Linked DNA regions of Homo sapiens. The protein of the gene in region 1 purifies or fractionates together with the protein of each later gene. This does not show direct contact. Each region holds a gene or a part of one and is shown in the gene's direction. Other genes may lie near its edges.

Region 1 (3,816 bases):
CTGGCCTATTGCTATCTCAGTCCACCTCAGAACCAGCCTTCTTGAAACATCTCCAACCTGTTTCTGCCCAATCTCCTCTCCTCCACCGGGACTGCAGTTTTGGAAAATATCCTTCTTTACAATTCAAAGCATGTAATTCCCCTTGGAGTAGGCTAAGAGGCATCTTGTTCACTAGCAGCAGTTTAGTTTCAATCCTTTAACATGTTATCACCGTCTAAAAATTCATGGACAAGAAACTGGCCGAACTCCATAAAGCCAGTTCCCATTTCCCCATTGTGTACATAGACACTGGATCTTAAGACACCCAGGAAACTATGTCGCTTAAAAAATGTGTACGTTGACCATGTACAAATGTATCTGAAATGACAGAAACATAGGAAGTTAAAACTGGGCAAGACCATAGAGTGTTCCCATTCTGTGATTTTTTTTTTTTTTTTTAAAGAACGCCAGTTAACTTTTAGTTTTTTAAAATATTTTAGTTCTACACAATGGGTGAAATTTCTTTTTATACATAATGTTTGAAGATTTACTTTTTTTAAATTACCTCTTCGCAATAGTCCTGTAAATTAAAGAATGGAATAGTATTTTGTTGAATATACAGATTAGTCTCTGATATATTGATCGATAATGTGGCTTGCTGCTTCGTTTTCACTCTAGCGTGAGGTGACTCCTTCTTGTGGTTTAGGAGCTGTGAATCTCTCGTTCCCTGATCTTAAAGATGAGGAAGCTGGAACCTAGAGGCCTTGAGTTACAGGTTCCAGGTCCATGGCTAGAGCTGAGATGTATGCTTAGGGCTCTTGATCTAGAATCTAGAACGTTAAAGAAAAAGCGTAGGAGATCCAGCTTCAAAACTAGACTCTGCCAGGCTAGAGGAAGGAGCCTGACATTTTTTTCAAAGGGAGGCAGAAACAGAAGAGGGAAGAAAGGGGTTTTAGTTGATAAAAGGACTAAGAGTAGCAAGAAGACACTTCTCAGGCAGTTGGGAAGAATCAGACATGTACAGTAAGGTGAGTGGCACAAAGCAAGTGTGCAGCAAACATCTCCCCAGTGAGCAGATGCATGGACGAGAGGATGGTGGGAAAGTGACCAGCTCTTTCCCTCTTTTTCCATCTCTGTGATTGCCATTCTCTCCGCCATGCCTTCATGCTTCCCCATTAGCTCCTGATTTGATCAGCTGGCACCAGAGCTGCAGCCCCCCACGAGCCTGTAGGTGGGGAGGGAGATGCTGTACAGATGGGAGCCCACAGAAATGTTGTCTTGCTGCCTCCTGGGCCATTTGGTGTCCTTGAAAATGTTTCACCGTTTTGCAACTGGGTTGCAAAGCCTGACTTTGGCAACCCCAGTCTGTACCTTCCGTGGCTGGGGGACTGGGTGGGGTCCCTTTTATAAGATCCACTTTTCCTTGGGCTGCACCATCCTAACAGACTGAATGTCCTTGTTGCATAGACTGGAATCGTGGAGAAGGTGAAGGGCAGCATCACCACTATGCTGGCCCTTGCTTCGTCCCAGGGGGATGGCCTCTACAAGGAGCTTGCAGGTAAATACGCCAAAGCTTTGTATACAGGGTGATTGTGCAGACAGCCCTGGCTGTGGTTACTCCTTCCTGAATTTAAAGGTATTAAACTTTAAATTTTAGGAATTTAAGTTAGGAAGTTAGGAAGAATTAGCAGGGCAAGGAATGGAGATGATGACGATGATGATGGTGATGATGATGATGATGATGATGATGATGATGAAAACAACAGCCCTACCCTTTGCCCAGCACCCAACTGACAGCAAGCATTATACTCAGGCTTTGTGCTCATGGTTTCACTGAATTCTCACATTACCTCCCAGGGATAGATGTTGTTGCTCCATTTTGCAGATGCAGAAATAGAGACTTATATTAGGAAATGTGCCCAAGGTCCCATAGCTGGAAAGCGGCTAATTTAAATCCACAGCTCTGCCCTGCTCTCTCCATAAAGTCTTTCTTTTAAGTTGATGCCTCCTTAAGAAAAATTTCATGGTCTGGTGATGGTGGAGAAAGGCTTCTCTTAATCCACCTATAGCCTGGGGATGCGGCCCCAGCTGTGGACCTTGGTGTAGGCAACCATGTCCCTTTCAGGCCATGGGCTCCATCAGGCCCCCGGTATAAACTGGAGAGGGTAACCTGGTACAAACAGCAATTAAGTAATTTCTAGCCAAATTTAAAATGCACATATCATTTGGCGCAGCAACCCTACAGATATCCTTATATGGGGGGAGGGTGGCATATAGACAAGGTTATTCAGGGTAACATTCTAAAGTCAGAAATGGGGACAACTCAAATATCTGTAAGTAAAGCACTGCTCAAATTAAATTAGATACACAAGGAGTGGAGGACTGTGTAACTGTTAGAAAAAATAAAGCAGCTTTATAGGTAGTGGCATGAAATGATCTCCAAAATATATTACAAAGTGGAAAACAGCAAAGTGAGTAAATGTATATGGTATGTTGCCATTTGTGAGAGGGGAAAAAAGGAAATACATATGTATATGTTTGTATGTGCATAAAAATCTCCATGGGCTACATAGAACACTGGCAGTACTCGTTGCCTCTAAGGAGGGGAACTGGAAGGCTGGAGGGTAGGAGAGGGTGGGAGCCTTGCTCTGCACCCTGTATATTTTGTGCCTTTTATATTTTATACCACATCCATAGTTGCCTGCTGCAATGAACAGATCTGATGCCATTTGAGTTTGCCAGGGTGAAAGTAGACAGAGCTGTTCCCAAAGTCAAAGCCACAATGGCTGCTTCTAACAATCCGTTCTGCACTTCTCCATCTCTCTGGGAATCTTTATGACCCATTTATGGCTGGTTAGATGGACCTCTAACCTGATCTAACGGACTCCAGGGAAGGAGATACAACACCCTCACACTATAATGTACTGGACTCTCATGACCTTCTGTCCAGGCCTTTATAGGAATCTAAGTTTTAAGATGATAGTCATTCCAATGTGCCTGCTTTAAAGAACTCCCGCTTGCCAGAGATCTTGACCAGCTTCAGTGAAGCTTCCCCGCATCCCAGCCCTGAATAACCACTCTGTCTCTGAACTTCAAGAATTATAGCAGGTGCACTTGACAGATGGTGCTCCCCTCAGTTTGATGTCAAGTGCAACTGCTATAATTTAAGCCTATTTCCTTCTCTTCACCATCGACAGCAAATATACATCATGTCAGGGGGTCATACTTTATAAAGAAATCTAAAAGGCAGTCCCTGTTGTCAGGGCCTTACCTGGTTGGTAAGACAAGATGTGTAAGAATGTGCGTTGTAAGACTGGGGAGTTTACATTCACTCAGCAAGCGATTCTGATCACGTCCTGGGTGCCAGGCAGTGTTCTGGGTGCTGAGGACACAGTGGTGGCCAATACAGGCAAGAGTCCCCACCTTCATGGAGCTCACAGCCCAGTGGGTGGAAGGCAGGCAGTCAGCAAACTAATAAGTGAAATATGTGGCAGGGAAGCGAAACACAGAAAGGGAAGAAGGGATGCTGAGGTACGGGACAGGGTGGTGGGACAGGGTGGTAAAGGAAGGTCTCCCTGGGAATGTGACACTTAAGCAAAGCCCTGAGGGAGGGAACCCACTCAGACTTCAGATCGTTATTCTTGAAGTTCAGAGACAGAGTGGTTATTCAGGGCTGGGACGCGGGGAAGCGTCACTGAAGCTGGGTCCTGGGGGAAGCCTCAAAGGTTAGGTTGATTTCAGAGGCAGTGGGGAGAAGGGAGGCCTTCCAGATATGGGACAGAACAAAAAGACTCCGGGTCCTAACTCCCCTCTGCTCATGAGTCCCATCCCTGGCCA
Region 2 (3,500 bases), on another chromosome or scaffold:
CAGATCGCATGATGGCTTGATCTCACTCACCATCACAAGAACAGCATGGGGGAAATCCACCCCCACAATCCAGTCACCTCCCACCAGGTCCCTCCGTCAACACCGTGTGGATTATAATTCCAGATGAGATGTGGGTGGGGACACAGAGCCAAATCATATCAGGATGTTTTCTGTTTTGTTTACCTGAGACAAAGTGCTGTTCACCTCTCCTCTCCCACATAATCAGGGGCTCCCTCCTGCGGCTCCGGTAGCTTTTCCTCACTTTCCTTTCAGCCCTCGGGACACCTTCCTTGGCTCCTTTCAGAGCTCAGTTACTACTTGGGCCCAATGTCAATGCCACCTTCTAGATTCTTTCCGGCAGCACCTCCTCTGGTCGCACATTTCTCTTCCAGTTATTGGAGCTGTCAAAAAAGCTCCCCAGTGATGGACGATAGCGATTTCACTGTGCTCACAGACTGGTCAGGAAACCAAACAGCTGCCACAGTGAATGTGTTGATAGCAGCGGGGCAGCAGTAGCACTCGCTCACAGGCCTGGTGGTTGGTGCTGGCCCCCACCCTGAATACCTACATGTGGCTTCTCCATGTGGCCTGTGCATCCTCACTGAAGCTCAGCCTGTCTCTCCAAATTGGTCTTTCCACTCACCTGTTCCCCAAACCTGCCCAGACCTTCCTGCTGTAGGCTTTTCCCTTCACTTGGCACACTCTTTCCCTTGTCTTCCCATGGCCCCATCTAAGCCCCACTGTCAGCTGAAGTGTTATATTCTTTGAGGGGCCACCTGAAGCCACCTTGCAATGAGGGCCTCCGTTTTCTACCTCAGCTCACCATTTGTTCACAGCACTTGTCACTGTGGCGAGTTACTTGTCTATGGCCTGTTGTCGTTCTCCTGCCTAGACCCAGTGGGCTGAGTGGGGGCAAGTGTTGGCTTTTATGTCCAGTTTTGATCTTGGTGCCAGCACATTGCCTGGGTGGAAGCATGTCCTACTATCGGTTACAGGGATGTCATTCTGCCCAGTGCTCAGGGGCATACACTTGGATCCCAGTTGTGTGCCCTTGGACACATTGCTTAACCTCTCTGTGCATCAGTTGGGTGATAATATCTACTCCTGGCACATTTTCAGCGTTGGCTGAGTTACATGTACAGTGCTTAGGCCACCTGGGGGAGAGTAAGAGTGGGATACGTGAGGATGTGGAGTCTGTTGCATTTCTGTCTGCTGCTGGCATCCTTCTTGTCTTGTTTTGAGTTGCTCGCCTCTGTCTGCTCCCTAGGGCGTAGATTTGAGGAATATTCCTGGTTCTTCCCAGGCAGCAGGGGCTCAGGCTGTGCTGGAGTCAGCTAGGCTAAGGGGCTGGTCTGGCATCCGCGTTGTCCTGTCACCTCCTTGGTGTTTTCTCCAGGCCTGGATCTGTGCTGTGTGGGCACCTGTATTCCTCCCTCCTGCCCTCACTGATTCTCCATACCTTTCTTCTCGAGAGTGCCAAGCCCCTCCCATGTGTTCTTGTTCATACCTAGGATCCCGGGAAGGGGCTGGGGAAGACGGTGCCCAGGTGCCCTGGGTAAACAAAGCCACCTGACTCCACGGGAATGGAATGGGTGGAGGGGATCTGAGGTCTGCATTTTGAGTATCTCTGGTCTCAGAGGATGAAGCATTTGGTGGGGGTTGGGGGTGGGGGGTAGGGTGGAAGAATCTAAAGTCTTAAAAGAAAATGGCAGTTATTTGTGGGACAGGGCTGTGTTGAGACTTGGCATGCTTCTTTTTAAGAGTCAGTGTTGTAATTTAGGTATAAGTGAAGCAGTACTTTGTATTAGTTTCCTGTAGGCGCTGTAACAAAGCACCACAAACTGGTTGACTTAAAACAACAGACATGGCCGGGCACGGTGGCTCACGACTGTAATCCCAGCACTTTGGGAGGCCGAGGCGGGCAGATCACAAGGTCAAGAGATTGAGACCATCCTGGCTAACACGGTGAAACCCTGTCTCTACTAAAAATACAAAAAAAAAAAAATTAGCTGGGCGTGGTGGCACACGCCTGTAGTCCCAGCTACTCGGGAGGCTGAGGCAGGAGAATGGCGTGAACCCGGGAGGCGGAGCTTGCAGTGAGCTGAGATCGCGCCACTGCACTCCAGCCTGGATGACAGCGAGACTCCGCCTCAAAACAAAAACAAAAACAGAAACAACAATAACAGAAAAACACAGACATTTACTCTCTGGCAGTTCTGGAGGCCAGAAGTTGAAATCCAGATGTCAGCAGGATTGGCTCCTTCTGAAGGCCCGAGGGGAGGGTCCTTCCTGGCCTCCTCCCTGGTGTTCCTGGGCTTGTGGCCGCATCACTCCGCTCTGCCCGTCTTCACACTCCCTCTTGTCTGTGTGTCTGTCTCTCTGTTCTCATGAGGACACTTGGCATCCAGGGCCCAACCACACCCAGAGTCCCTGGTCTCCTGTGGCTGACTCACTTTTTACTGTCACCGTGAAGTCCAGGGGGTCCTTGTACTTGATGTTCTCTCCTGGCAAGGCCAGGGCCCTGTGATTGGCCTCTCATGGAGTGCTGGGCAGGGCCTCCATGGCCTCTGTCGGGCGGGGGGGCTACTTCATCTCTGAGTCTGTACCCCTCGTGTCCCAGGCAGTGGAGTGGGAGTGAAGAAGCTGTGTGAACTGCAGCCTGAGGAGAAGTGCTGTGTGGTGGGCACTCTGTTCAAGGCCATGCCGCTGCAGCCCTCCATCCTGCGGGAGGTCAGCGAGGAGGTGAGGCAGGGTGCTACACAGTGGGGCCGCCAGGCAGACCTGGCCTCCCACTAGAACACCTCCCTGGAGGTGGGGTTGTGGGGAAGCAGGTTCAGAGACAATGGACTCCAGAGGGGTGGGGGCTGCGGTGCCAGCTCACTAACACCAGAGCTTTGGTGGGCTCTGGCCCCAAGATTATACCTCCTGTCTCTGCATTCCAGCACAACCTGCTCCCCCAGCCTCCTCGGAGTAAATACATACACCCAGATGACGAGCTGGTCTTGGAAGATGAACTGCAGCGTATCAAACTAAAAGGCACCATTGACGTGTCAAAGCTGGTTACGGGTAGGGAGCCCAATGAGAGGATGTGGGTGATGCAGGTGAAGAGCCCAGCGGTGGTGTGTTAGGGATGGTGTGAGTGGGGAGCCTGGGGGGAGTGGGGGGGTGTGGCCTGGGCACACGTGTGTTCTTGAGGAGGTAGGTGAGGCTCCAGGCGGTCGGAGGCCATCAGATTGGGTGAGACCTGGCTGGGAGATGGGTCTCCCCACCTCCATCCAAGGGCAGTGACTCCAGGAAGCAGGCATGCATCCTGGAGTCCTAGGTGAGAATTCACCAATGTGGTTGTGGAGAACTGGCTTGTTTTGCCCGTTGGGGTGACTGGAAGGAGTGGTAGCACCTGGGGCTCCCTGCTCAGGCCTGATGCCACTGCTCCCCAGGGACTGTCCTGGCTGTGTTTGGCTCCGTGAGAGACGACGGGAAGTTTCTGGTGGAGGACTATT

The links.
Region 2: the proteins of NUGGC (region 1) and POLD2 purify together in Homo sapiens (affinity purification with mass spectrometry; one large-scale study listed by BioGRID and IntAct). This does not show direct contact.

Annotation. Positions count from the first base shown.
Region 1 is NC_000008.11:28,024,683-28,028,498, reverse strand, and holds part of NUGGC (nuclear GTPase SLIP-GC), read left to right. Parts: intron 1-1,446; coding exon 1,447-1,537; intron 1,538-3,816. UniProt on the Homo sapiens protein: Nuclear GTPase found in germinal center B-cells, where it may inhibit function of the activation-induced cytidine deaminase AICDA. Reduces somatic hypermutation in B-cells which may enhance genome stability.
Region 2 is NC_000007.14:44,117,185-44,120,684, reverse strand, and holds part of POLD2 (DNA polymerase delta subunit 2), read left to right. Parts: intron 1-2,620; coding exon 2,621-2,742; intron 2,743-2,942; coding exon 2,943-3,066; intron 3,067-3,437; coding exon 3,438-3,500. UniProt on the Homo sapiens protein: Accessory component of both the DNA polymerase delta complex and the DNA polymerase zeta complex.